Homo sapiens: one gene and its partner. The protein of the gene in region 1 interacts with the protein of each later gene in a pairwise test. Each region holds a gene or a part of one and is shown in the gene's direction. Other genes may lie near its edges. The genes, in order: SEC14L1 and SLC5A7.

Evidence for each region.
Region 2: the proteins of SEC14L1 (region 1) and SLC5A7 interact in a two-hybrid assay, tested with the Homo sapiens proteins (one study listed by BioGRID).

The regions. Positions count from the first base shown.
Region 1 is NC_000017.11:77,206,741-77,214,037, forward strand, and holds part of SEC14L1 (SEC14-like protein 1), read left to right. Parts: coding exon 1-122; intron 123-2,601; coding exon 2,602-2,736; intron 2,737-5,209; coding exon 5,210-5,461; intron 5,462-6,573; coding exon 6,574-6,752; intron 6,753-7,177; coding exon 7,178-7,283; 3' UTR 7,284-7,297.
Region 2 is NC_000002.12:108,010,351-108,014,618, forward strand, and holds the end of SLC5A7 (high affinity choline transporter 1), read left to right. Parts: coding exon 1-511; 3' UTR 512-3,644; downstream 3,645-4,268. UniProt on the Homo sapiens protein: High-affinity Na(+)-coupled choline transmembrane symporter. Functions as an electrogenic, voltage-dependent transporter with variable charge/choline stoichiometry.

The DNA.
Region 1 (7,297 bases):
TTGATGACAACACCAGAAGGAAGTTCCTCATTTATGCAGGAAATGACTACCAGGGTCCTGGAGGCCTGCTGGATTACATCGACAAAGAGATTATTCCAGATTTCCTGAGTGGGGAGTGCATGGTATGTCCTGAGGCGAGGAACTGCACATTTGGCCCCTTATGCAGGTGGGAGAGGTCGGTGTCGATTTGCACAAATGATTTTCAGAACTTCCAGTTGTTTGGATGTTTTGTTTTTGTTTTGTTTCTTTTGGCCGCCATTTCTCTGATCCAGGGTTAAGCTAAAGAGAACCATTGAAGTAATTGTTGATACTGTACATTTCTTCATTGTTAAATACGAATGAGAATTCGTAGAATCAAATACGATTGCAGCTTGCTTTGATTCACACGGCTTTGTGTGAATCAGATCTTTAAACAATTTTAGAGGAGCTGTCATATTTTCTAAAATACTGTTAAAAAATTGAATCAGTTCTCAAAATTTCCCACCCGCCCCTCCCCGTCCTTTTTTTTATGGAGACAGGGTCCGGCTCTGTCACCCAGGCTGGAGTGCAGTGGTGCGATCACAGCTCAGCAGCCTGACTTGGTGGGCTCAGGTGATCCTCCCACCTCAGCCACCCAAGTAGCTGGGACTGTAGGCGTGCACCACCATACCCAGCGAATTTTTTGTAGAGGCAGAGTCTCACTATTTTGCCCCAGACTGGATGACATTTTTGGTTTTTTTTTTTCTTCTTGAGATGGAGTCTTGCTCTGTTGCACAGGCTGGAGTGCAGTGGTGCAATCTCAGCTCACTGCAGCCTCCGCCTCCCAGATTCAAGCGATTCTTCAGTCTCAGCCTCTGGAGTAACTGGGATTACAGGCATGCGCCACTACCCACAGCTAATTGTTTTATTTTTAGTAGAGATGGGGTTTCACCATGTCAGCCAGGCTGGTCTCAAACTCCTGACCTCAAGTAATCCGCCCACCTCGGCCTTCCAAAGTGCCGGGATTACAGGCATGAGCCACCATGCCTGGCCTGGATAACATTTTTAAAGTAAAAAAACGAAGGGAAGTGGTTCTCAACATACGTTTGGGGTTTTTAATATACTGAGTTGCTGGGTAATGAAGCAGAGGCCTCCACTTCTATATCCTGTACTCAGAGAAGCTCAGAACCTTGGGGTCCTTATAGGCTTCTAGCCCATGGTGCACAGTTGTGTCTTGGGAGCATTACGGAAGCCAGAGCCTCTAGAAGTCCCAGTGACTTGTTCCATGGCACACGGCGGTGGCTGAACTCAGCAGGGAGTGAAGCTCCTTTTCAGAAGGGCTCTCTAGTCATCCTTCATATGAAAAGTTACCCGTTTGGAATGTGTACCCACTGGGTTTGACTCAGGTATTTAGCTAATGAATTGGACATTCAGGGGACTTTGGACTTTCTGAATGGTTAGAGAAATTTAGAAAACAAATGAATTTAGCTTTCACTTCATCAGTTCCACTTTAAGGAAATTACAGGCATCATCACAGTACAATGCAAAGAGCAAGTAAGTTACAGTAAAGGTTATAGGACCAGAATTTAGCAAGCGCCTATGAGGTTAAACCGCAGGCTCAGGTTCGTAGAAACCTCTGAACTCCTTTCATGATATGAGCTAGCCATCCCGTGTTGTTGCTGCTTCCAATTATGACACGAAGAATTGAGCTGGAGCCCAAGGAGACCTGCCTCACCGCGTTGTGCCTGTTTGTCACATGCCGACCTCCGTAGTGTGTTTGCGGTGCTGAGCGTCTTTGTGGTTAATTGAACTGTCCAAAAACTTGGGCCTTCTAAGGCTTCTTCACCTCTCTCCTGAGCTGCTGTTGAGGCTGATTGTTGAAAGGAGGTTGTTCCCTCCTGCTCTCTGGTGGCCGGAGGTTACTAACCAGCGGGCAGTCTGGTATTTTTCCACCACGACATCACTGCTTTGACACTTATGCTGTACTGCAGGCTGAAGACTGAAATGTTTATTTTCTATGTAGTTGCTTCCCAAGGCTAATAGAACGAGGACTTCGATTTTATGAACTTTAGTGTGGAGTCATTGTGTCAAGGTCAATTAGGAGATTTATGTTATGTACAAGTTCTAATTCAACTTGTTTCAGGCAAATTCAAAAGAAGTTCTTCATTAGTTTTTGGCTGGTGTTATAGACCAGTCATTTGACTTTAGACAGAAAACATTATTCATTGATTCTGTATCTTCACTATAATTCCCTATCATAAAAATAATGCCTGTGGCTATTGAGAGCAAAACTCTTTTCTTAAAGTAATACTTTTCCTTTACAGGGCAATATAAATACCCCTAATGCTTATATGAGTCAGCTTTAGTAACTGGGTGCAGTGCCTCACGCATTTTAGTAGGAATTCTGTGGTACATCAGCTTCAACTTGTTCCCGTTTATGCAGAGTAAAACACATGTATTTAAGTGGTTTTTAAAAACATATTGCTCAGTAGTGCAGAGTGTTTTACGACCCTGCCAGTGTTTTCCATTTTCTCAGCAACCTCCAGAAGTTGAGTGCAGGGGGATAGTGCTGGCCGGTGTGTCTGGGTTTCGTGGGGTTGGTTTGTGTTTGCACAGGTTTCACTGCTGTGTTTCTTCTTCCAGTGCGAAGTGCCAGAGGGTGGACTGGTCCCCAAATCTCTGTACCGGACTGCAGAGGAGCTGGAGAACGAAGACCTGAAGCTCTGGACTGAGACCATCTACCAGTCTGCAAGCGTCTTCAAAGGAGCCCCACATGAGGTACGTCCTCCGCCTTCCTGCACCTGGGCCGGCCCTTCCTCCGCAGAGGGCCTGGCCCTCGCAGGGCTTCCTGGCAGCCTTTCATTCAGAACAGTCCACTCGTTTTTCTGCTCTTTGTCTTTAGGCTTTTGTTGACACTCGATATTTAGTTTCAGTAAATGTCAACGTCGAAGAATGGGTCTCTCTCAGAATAGAAACTAGCTGTGCTTGATCAGAGTGCCTGGAAAGGAAATTGGATCTCTTGACCTCCATTTTACTAAAGCCACCAAACACAGAGATAGGAATAGCTAATCTTTCCTTGTTGGAGCACTTAACTCCTGAATTTAGTTTATTTCATGGTTATATTGAACAAGTTTCATGTGCTACTTTTTCTTTTTTTTTTTCTAGACAGAGTTTTGCTCTGTTGCCCAGGCTGGAGTACACTGGCATGATCTCAACTCACTGCAACCTCCGCCTTATGGGTTCAAGCAATTCTCCTGCCTCAGCCTCCCAAGTAGCTGGGATTACAGGCACCCGCCACCACGCCTGGCTAATTTTTGTATTTTTAGTAAAGGTGGGGTTTCACCATGTTGGCCAGGCTGGTCTCGAACACCTGACCTCAGGTGATCCACCTGCCTTGGCCTCCCAAAGTGCTGGGATTACAGGTGTGAGCCACTGTACCTGGCCCGTTTGCTACTTTTTCTTGGCTGGGTTTTGGTTATTTATAGATATCTTGGGGATTTTCCGATTTCTGTAAGTCTAATGGAGCAAGGAGGGTGTTCCTGTATTCCTTTTTTGCTGTCACTTTTGGTAGAGAAGCAAGGGCGTTCCGTGTTCCTGTGCATGCCATATGTCTGTCCTGTAGCATCACGAGTGACCTGAAGCAGGAGGGGCCTGCAGCGGAATCTCCCTTCTCAGCTAGGACAAGGTTCGTGGCCCAGAGTTGTTGGAGAGGATGGTGGCACTCTGTGCAGAGCAGGTGTCAGTGAGGATGTGGTGCTGGCTTGGGCAATGGTGCTGGCCGGGAGCTGACTGCGGCCTGCTTCCTGCCGTGGTGGCACCTGGGTCAGCCATCTGCCAGTGGCTTCTGCTGGGGTGTCTTCCTGAGTGGCTCACCTGGTGCTTGCAGGGCAGGTGGATAAGGGAATGCTGTTGCCATGGTTTGAACAAGCAGAGACAGATTTGGTGTGCCTTACTTGTAGATACATACATAGAGGAATCTCAGATTTCATAACGTCTTGAGGATTGTCTGTATTCATTTCTTACCGGGAGGGCAGGCTCCAGGGACCGAGTCCTTGTTCCTTGTTTGTTAGGCACTATCGCTCTTGTCCATGTTTCAAGAACTTGGGGTGCAGTGTGTTTCGTGTGAATCGGGGGCATCTGTAGACATCCACATGGTAAAAACCTCCGTTCTGCTTTGGGTATTAAATAAAGCACAGATCCGAGATGGCAACAAACTGAAAGGAAGGCTGAAGCGGAGGCCCCCACTGTGAATGCAGGAAAGAGGTTCCGTCAGCACAGGGGGCCGAGGCCTCAGGATGGAGCTGCCTGGGGAGCCACTTTGCTGAAGAGGGGGCCGTGCCACGTGGTGCCGCCTGCTGTTCTTAGACAGGACCCTTGTACCTCACTGAATCTGCTGTGGAAGGACATTCTGAAGTGGCGTTTCAGTGGTGAGGTGGCAGTGGTGGGATTAAAGGGGCCCGGCTCGTAGAGCAGCCACGCGCTGAAGGGCACAGCAGACAGCGTGCATGGGCTGAGAGGGGCCGTGGGCCTGGCTCTGCTGCTTCCTTAGGTGGAGTTTTCAGTGACTGCAGAACTCTGCACAGCTGCTTTTCATTCTCACGTCCGCCCCCGCCCAATCTTTGAAACTAACTTTGATTATTCCCTCCTGGGTAGCTCTGTCGGTGCTGTGTAAGTTTGGTTTTCAATTGGTTCTCAGCACCCAGGGGGTGACCACCTCAACCCCATCTCTACTATGCCAGGGGCTCATCCCGCTCACCCAGCCTCGCCACTGTTCTCTCGTGTGAGCCTCACACGGCAGGCCCGGTTCCATGCCCCTGCTTCCCCCTTGCTGGGAACGCTGTCCTCAGGCTCCCCTGCCTGCTCTTTCTTTAGCTTTCACCTTCTCCAGGGCCTTCTGTTCTGTCCAGCCCAGGGCAGTCCTCTGAACCACTCATGTACGAGCTCACAGTGTTTGGTGTTTCTAAGACCTGGCCTCTTAGAGTGTGTGTGAAGATGGTGTATGGGAGATCTTGGACCTCTAGGTGCAGGTCACAAAGAACACAGAGCTTGGTGCATGACATGTAGCAGGATCCAGCGGTTGAATGGATGGTGGTGTGTGACTCTGGGGAAAGAGATCCGTCCATACGCATTCAGCGTTTCCCTCCCCAGCTTCAGCACCTGCACCCTGGATCCCCTGGAGAGCACGATGCGCTCGCAGCATGCCGGCCTGGTGCTCGTGGATCGTGGCTGCCTAACGCTGCCTCTTTTTCAGATTCTCATTCAGATTGTGGATGCCTCGTCAGTCATCACTTGGGATTTCGACGTGTGCAAAGGGGACATTGTGTTTAACATCTATCACTCCAAGAGGTCGCCACAACCACCCAAAAAGGACTCCCTGGGAGCCCACAGCATCACCTCTCCGGGTGGGAACAATGTGCAGCTCATAGACAAAGTCTGGCAGCTGGGCCGCGACTACAGCATGGTGGAGTCGCCTCTGATCTGCAAAGAAGGAGAAAGCGTGCAGGTAAAATCACACACAGGTCAAATCGCGCATCCGTGACTCCACACGGCCAGGTGATTCTGTCTTGAGTAGACTCTTTGCTTCGCTCCTTGAGCAGCCCTGTGTAGCTTTTGAGGCCCTGCTTGTGGAGGAGCAGCTTGCCTGGAGGAGCAGGAAGCCAAGTGGGTCTCGTAGGAAGGAGTTCAGGCCTCGCAGTGGTTTTGGACAGAATCTGCGACTTTTCCCAAAAGCAGCCTGTGACAGGAAGGGAAGGCATCGCACGCACGGGCCCAGCTGGGCTTCATAGGATTTTTCCCCCCCGCCTCATTTCACCGGGTTGTGTTTGTCTTTTTCAAAGGAAAATCACCCTAAATAGAAGTAAGAGGGACAAGTACTTAGAGAACTATTAGCTCTCATTACCAAACCTTCTAATTTGTTTCAAATGCTTTCAGTTCCCTTTTCACATTGTGGCTGGTTATTTTGGGTGCCTGTGCTCACAGTAGCCTCGGGGCGGGGGCATTGCTTCTGGCCTTCATAATAGATGCATCGTTTTGCTGCCTTTACAGTTTTCAGGGGTAAGGCTTGTCAGTGTTTCAGTGGTCTTAGAGGCAGAGTAAAAGAATCCTTTGTCCATTTTAAAAACAATGAACAGCTAAGCTGTGTTAACCAGTCATGAATTTCGGAGAGAATGGAGAAGGAGCTTTCCACGGATTGACGGCTCACTTTAGGGTGACGTGCCTTCAGCCCCGAACATGCTGGATGATTGGCAGCATGTCAGAGAAAGTGAGGCCAGGTCCAGGGAAGCTGTGCTGAGCCCTCCCTCCAGCATGGGTGCCACCAGCCTGCCAGGCTCCTGCCTCCGTAGGTGGGGTGGGCTGGGCAGGCCTCGTGAGGGCCACGGACATGGAGCTTGTCCCTCCGGGCTTCCCAGCACCCGGGAGTGACCACACTCAGTAGAGGGAAGGACATTGTCAAACCTGCTGCTGAAGCAAAATAGCAGGTTCTGAATCCCATTGAGATAGTTTCCGTAGCTACATGAAATCCTAAAGACAGTCCCCTTGGCGCTTGTCAGGCCTGTGGTAGGCCAGGGGTCGGAAGCGAGTCGCCCTCAGCTGCCACTGCCCTACTTGTTCTAGGGTTCCCATGTGACCAGGTGGCCGGGCTTCTACATCCTGCAGTGGAAATTCCACAGCATGCCTGCGTGCGCCGCCAGCAGCCTTCCCCGGGTGGACGACGTGCTTGCGTCCCTGCAGGTCTCTTCGCACAAGTGTAAAGTGATGTACTACACCGAGGTGATCGGCTCGGAGGATTTCAGGTGCGGCCACCCTCGCCACAGCAGGTGCTGCGGACAGCTGGGCATGGTTGGAGGGAGCCTGCAGTCCCACGCCGTGTGCAGGATCAGCAGTGGCGGCGGGTGTCAGGAATGCTTGGAGGGCCAGGAGGGAGTGGCTTTGGGGTCATTTGTTGGCACGGTGACTCCCTGCCTGTCTGCAGAGGGAGAGTGTCGGAGACAGAGCCGACTGACTGCCTTTGCTTTAGCTCACACTGCCGTCTGCGTGCAGGCTGTGGGAAGCCGGTCCCCCTGGTGGGTTACTCATGTCCATCCCCCGTTTGCAAGCACTGATGGGGATGAGAAGTGAGCAGAGAACAGGGTGGGCCACGAAGTCCAGCAGGCAGTGTGGGCCGGCGGGTGGTTGGCAGGGTGGTCCTCACGCCTCGCCCCTCCCTGTGCCATTACAGAGGTTCCATGACGAGCCTGGAGTCCAGCCACAGCGGCTTCTCCCAGCTGAGTGCCGCCACCACCTCCTCCAGCCAGTCCCACTCCAGCTCCATGATCTCCAGGTAGTGCCGCGCTGCCTG
Region 2 (4,268 bases), on another chromosome or scaffold:
CCTTGTTTACATCGTTATCTTCCCCCAGCTGCTTTGTGTACTCTTTGTTAAGGGAACCAACACCTATGGGGCCGTGGCAGGTTATGTTTCTGGCCTCTTCCTGAGAATAACTGGAGGGGAGCCATATCTGTATCTTCAGCCCTTGATCTTCTACCCTGGCTATTACCCTGATGATAATGGTATATATAATCAGAAATTTCCATTTAAAACACTTGCCATGGTTACATCATTCTTAACCAACATTTGCATCTCCTATCTAGCCAAGTATCTATTTGAAAGTGGAACCTTGCCACCTAAATTAGATGTATTTGATGCTGTTGTTGCAAGACACAGTGAAGAAAACATGGATAAGACAATTCTTGTCAAAAATGAAAATATTAAATTAGATGAACTTGCACTTGTGAAGCCACGACAGAGCATGACCCTCAGCTCAACTTTCACCAATAAAGAGGCCTTCCTTGATGTTGATTCCAGTCCAGAAGGGTCTGGGACTGAAGATAATTTACAGTGACCCCATCTAAATAAAATACTGCTTTTGCAAACAGAACACTGTAATAGGGTAGTTCTGGAGAGATGGTATGCAGCATACAAAAATATATTAAAAATATAAACAATGTTCAGGAGAGTAAAAATTCATATAAAGTGCAATTGCACAAATACAAGCCAAGCTAGAAGGAAGCACCTATGAAAGCAACAACTTTGTTTCTCATCCATAGTAGTATTGATTTTGATGCTAGATAGTTTTGCTAGGTATAAAAAATAAGTAAAGTTCCACTTAGAGAACAAAGGGCCAAATAGAGTTTTTATATTTGTTATGATAAAAGGAAGTAGATGTGAAAAAGCCTAAGAAAAAGGAAATTGGACAGTTTTGATACAAACTTTGTTTGCTAATGCACTGATGAGTCTAGTTTCATTATAGCACGAAGCTATGAGAATAACTTCAGTCACTCCCTTGAATGGTGCAATGAATTAACCAGCTGATTTTTCTTAGTGTGATGATTAACCCCTTCTTTCATGTTCTGAGCTATAACATTTGCTGAATATGCAATTTGTTATTCTTTTATTAATGGCATGTAATATTCTGAGCACGGGCAAAGAAAACACACAAAAGATTATGTATTGGCATTTATTTATGTGCAAGGTGATAGGAAAACTGAATCCATCTTTGTAGAAGAGCACTGGGCTAATTTGTATGTTTCCATAGCTACTATATGCATAAACAACAGTACCTGAAGGATTATTAAGCAACCTTAAAGCAATAAGTTCATTAAACAGAAGGTAATAGGAAGAACAGTACATTTTTGTCTTTATCTCAAGTATATAAAGTTTTGCCCCATGATAAAATAAGTAACATATAAATTAATACATAAGTTAATATTGGAAGTGAAATTAGGCCTTATGTAAGGAGAGGTAGCTACACAGCATCTGTTACGGTTAATGAGAGGCACACTGCTAAATTTACGTATATTTCATTGAATACTTTATGGGAAGCCTCCACAACACCTCCTGATAGTAGTAAAATTAGAAAAAAACAAACTCTACTAATTTTTAGATATTCATTAATAGGAAAGATTTAATGTTACAGCATCTACTCTTTGGCACTTTTTCACATAAGCCAGCCTTAGAGACTAGACAAATAACTACTGCAAAAAGTACATAGTGAATTTTAAAATGTAGAAGAAAGCAAAAAATAAAATAAGTCCTAAAGTGAAGAAGCCATCAATTTTAACATTTGATGTCTAGATAACATTCATGAGATTGGTCATTAAATACTATTTTGCTCCTTTTCTGGTGTTACACATACACACTCATACGTGTGTGTGTGTGTATGTGTGTGTGTGTATGTGTAATGATTTGTGTCCATTTCAAGTGTTTTCACACCAGTCACACATTATAGAAATTACTGGAGCCATGTCTACAAAAGCAAAGTGAAGTGATGAGCTGAAAAGTGATCAGGGAATCTGATCCCATAAAGAAAGTGAGTCTGAATTGTTGAAACTAAAGCACTTCTTTTCCAAAAATACTTCTGCAACTCATGAACAAAATGAAGTTAACTTAGTGTTTAGCATTAAAAATAAAAGTTGTACCTTGACCCTAGAATTCCTTTTATAAGATTTAATTGTAATTGTCTCAAAGCATCAAATAATACATCTTTATCATTAAACATGAATTTAATGTCTAGGATAATTTTTAAAAGAGGAAATTAAATAATTTTACATGTCTCATATTTTCAGTGCTTTCTCAAAATTTGATGGTGAATATTACATTGCATTCAAAATCTTCACTGAATATCATATGTATCTAAATGAAAAGAGAATTACTTATATTCATCTATTTTCTCAGAATCTATTCAGTACCCTATGGAGTACATGGAAGAAGTATATTTTTGGAACCAGTAAGTATGGGAGTCCACGATTCTCAGGTATTGATTGAAAAAAGAGAAAGGGGCAAGAAATTCATTAAAGAAAAACCACAGATACTGAAACATTTGACACATAAAAGTAATTAATTGCTGGAGACTACAATTCCTGGCAAACACCATTATTCCAGATGCACCATGCTACCCAGCATGCTACCTGAATGGCGGTTTTTATCCATCCTGTCACCCTGAGCATCTGTCTCAACCTGCTGAGGCACAGACTTCCACCATGTGCATCAGGAAACACCTCACTCATACTGTCATATAATGCAACAGGGAGGCATAGTCTCTCTACAGGTCTCTCTCTTTACGTTGTACCATTCTGTTGGGCAACAATTGTCCCAACAACCACACTTAAATCCAGTGGGGAAAAAAAGGTTAACAGTAAAAATTTCTTCCACGTAATTCAATTTCTCACAATAGACAGAAACAGGGGGAAAATGTTTGCCCTGTTCAAAGTACTAAAACTAGATAACTTAAATAATTTAAGCCAATAAATAATATTATATTGTATTTAACCCATTATTCCTCACCTACCCTCAAAGTAGGTATACAAAAGACTAGTTTGTTATTAATCCACAAATATGCTAAATGTTAGCAAGATGATTTTTAAGTACAAAAAAGTTTAAGATTGCAAGGAAGGAAACAATGGTCACAAGGTCTTTACTTATGCACATTTGTGCATAAATTTCCACCCAATTTCCAAGACAGTTGTATCACAAAGCTGTGAAATGTGCAAGAGTATACTTTGTACCCATCATGTGCTCTGTTTTGACATAATGAGTAATGCAGACATTTACATGTTCTTCCAGCTTCAATCAGTAGACCTGATTTTCAAAATCTGCCCTCAGATGAAAATAAAATAAACGAAACATTTAGACAATGGCTATATTAATCTGGGAAGGCAACACCTGTGGATAAAACATTAGAAGAAAACATATATTTTATTTTCATACTTTTGATATGATTGTAACATATTTCTTGAGTAATTTAAATGCTTTGTTTTCCCACACATATTCAAATCAGCAAGCTTGTAGCTGGACTGCAATATCAACAACAAGTTGTTTCAAACAGCATCAAAATACAACTTCATTGCTACACTTACAAGTAATGAATTTTATGTGACTATGAAACGAATATAAGCTTAAAATAAGTGAATCTAATAAAATGGCTATTCCTCTTTTTACTTGGAAATAATAAATTAACATTATATTTTAAACATAAATTATGATTTCTTTTTCTGTTTTAGCCTTCATGTAAATTTACACTGGTATGATGTGTAATTTATTGTACGTTTGCTACTTCATAGACAGATGCATATAATGGTTCTAGAACATATATTTTTGTCTGTCAAATTATTATATAAAATTATGCTTAAAATAAGTATATTTGCAACTGTGTAAATGCTTTAAGTGTAATGGCAATGTATTAAATTGTGCTGGTCAATTTAGGGTATCATTGTCTAAATTTGGCTTTTGGGGGCCCTCTCTTAAACTAAGTATATATGGTGCTTCAAGACAATTATGCAATGAAATCAAAATAAACCATCTCATTACTGGAGGATAGGCAAATGCCAAGTGGAAATGCTGCACCTCACGTAAGTCTTGGGGCAATATATATCATAGCTCAAAAACAAATGTAAATTGTTTTTCTTGGAAAAGACATTCTACCATTGTACACAGGTCTTTTGTAAATCAAAGAAATCAATAGAATAATATCCATTAAGAGTCTCATGCTTACTGACTGAGTCAGCCAGGTGATTCCAATTATATTCGTTCCAATCACATAAAGAAGATCTGCATTTTTCAAACCAAACAGCTGACCAACAGTTGTTGTATGAAGTCAATCT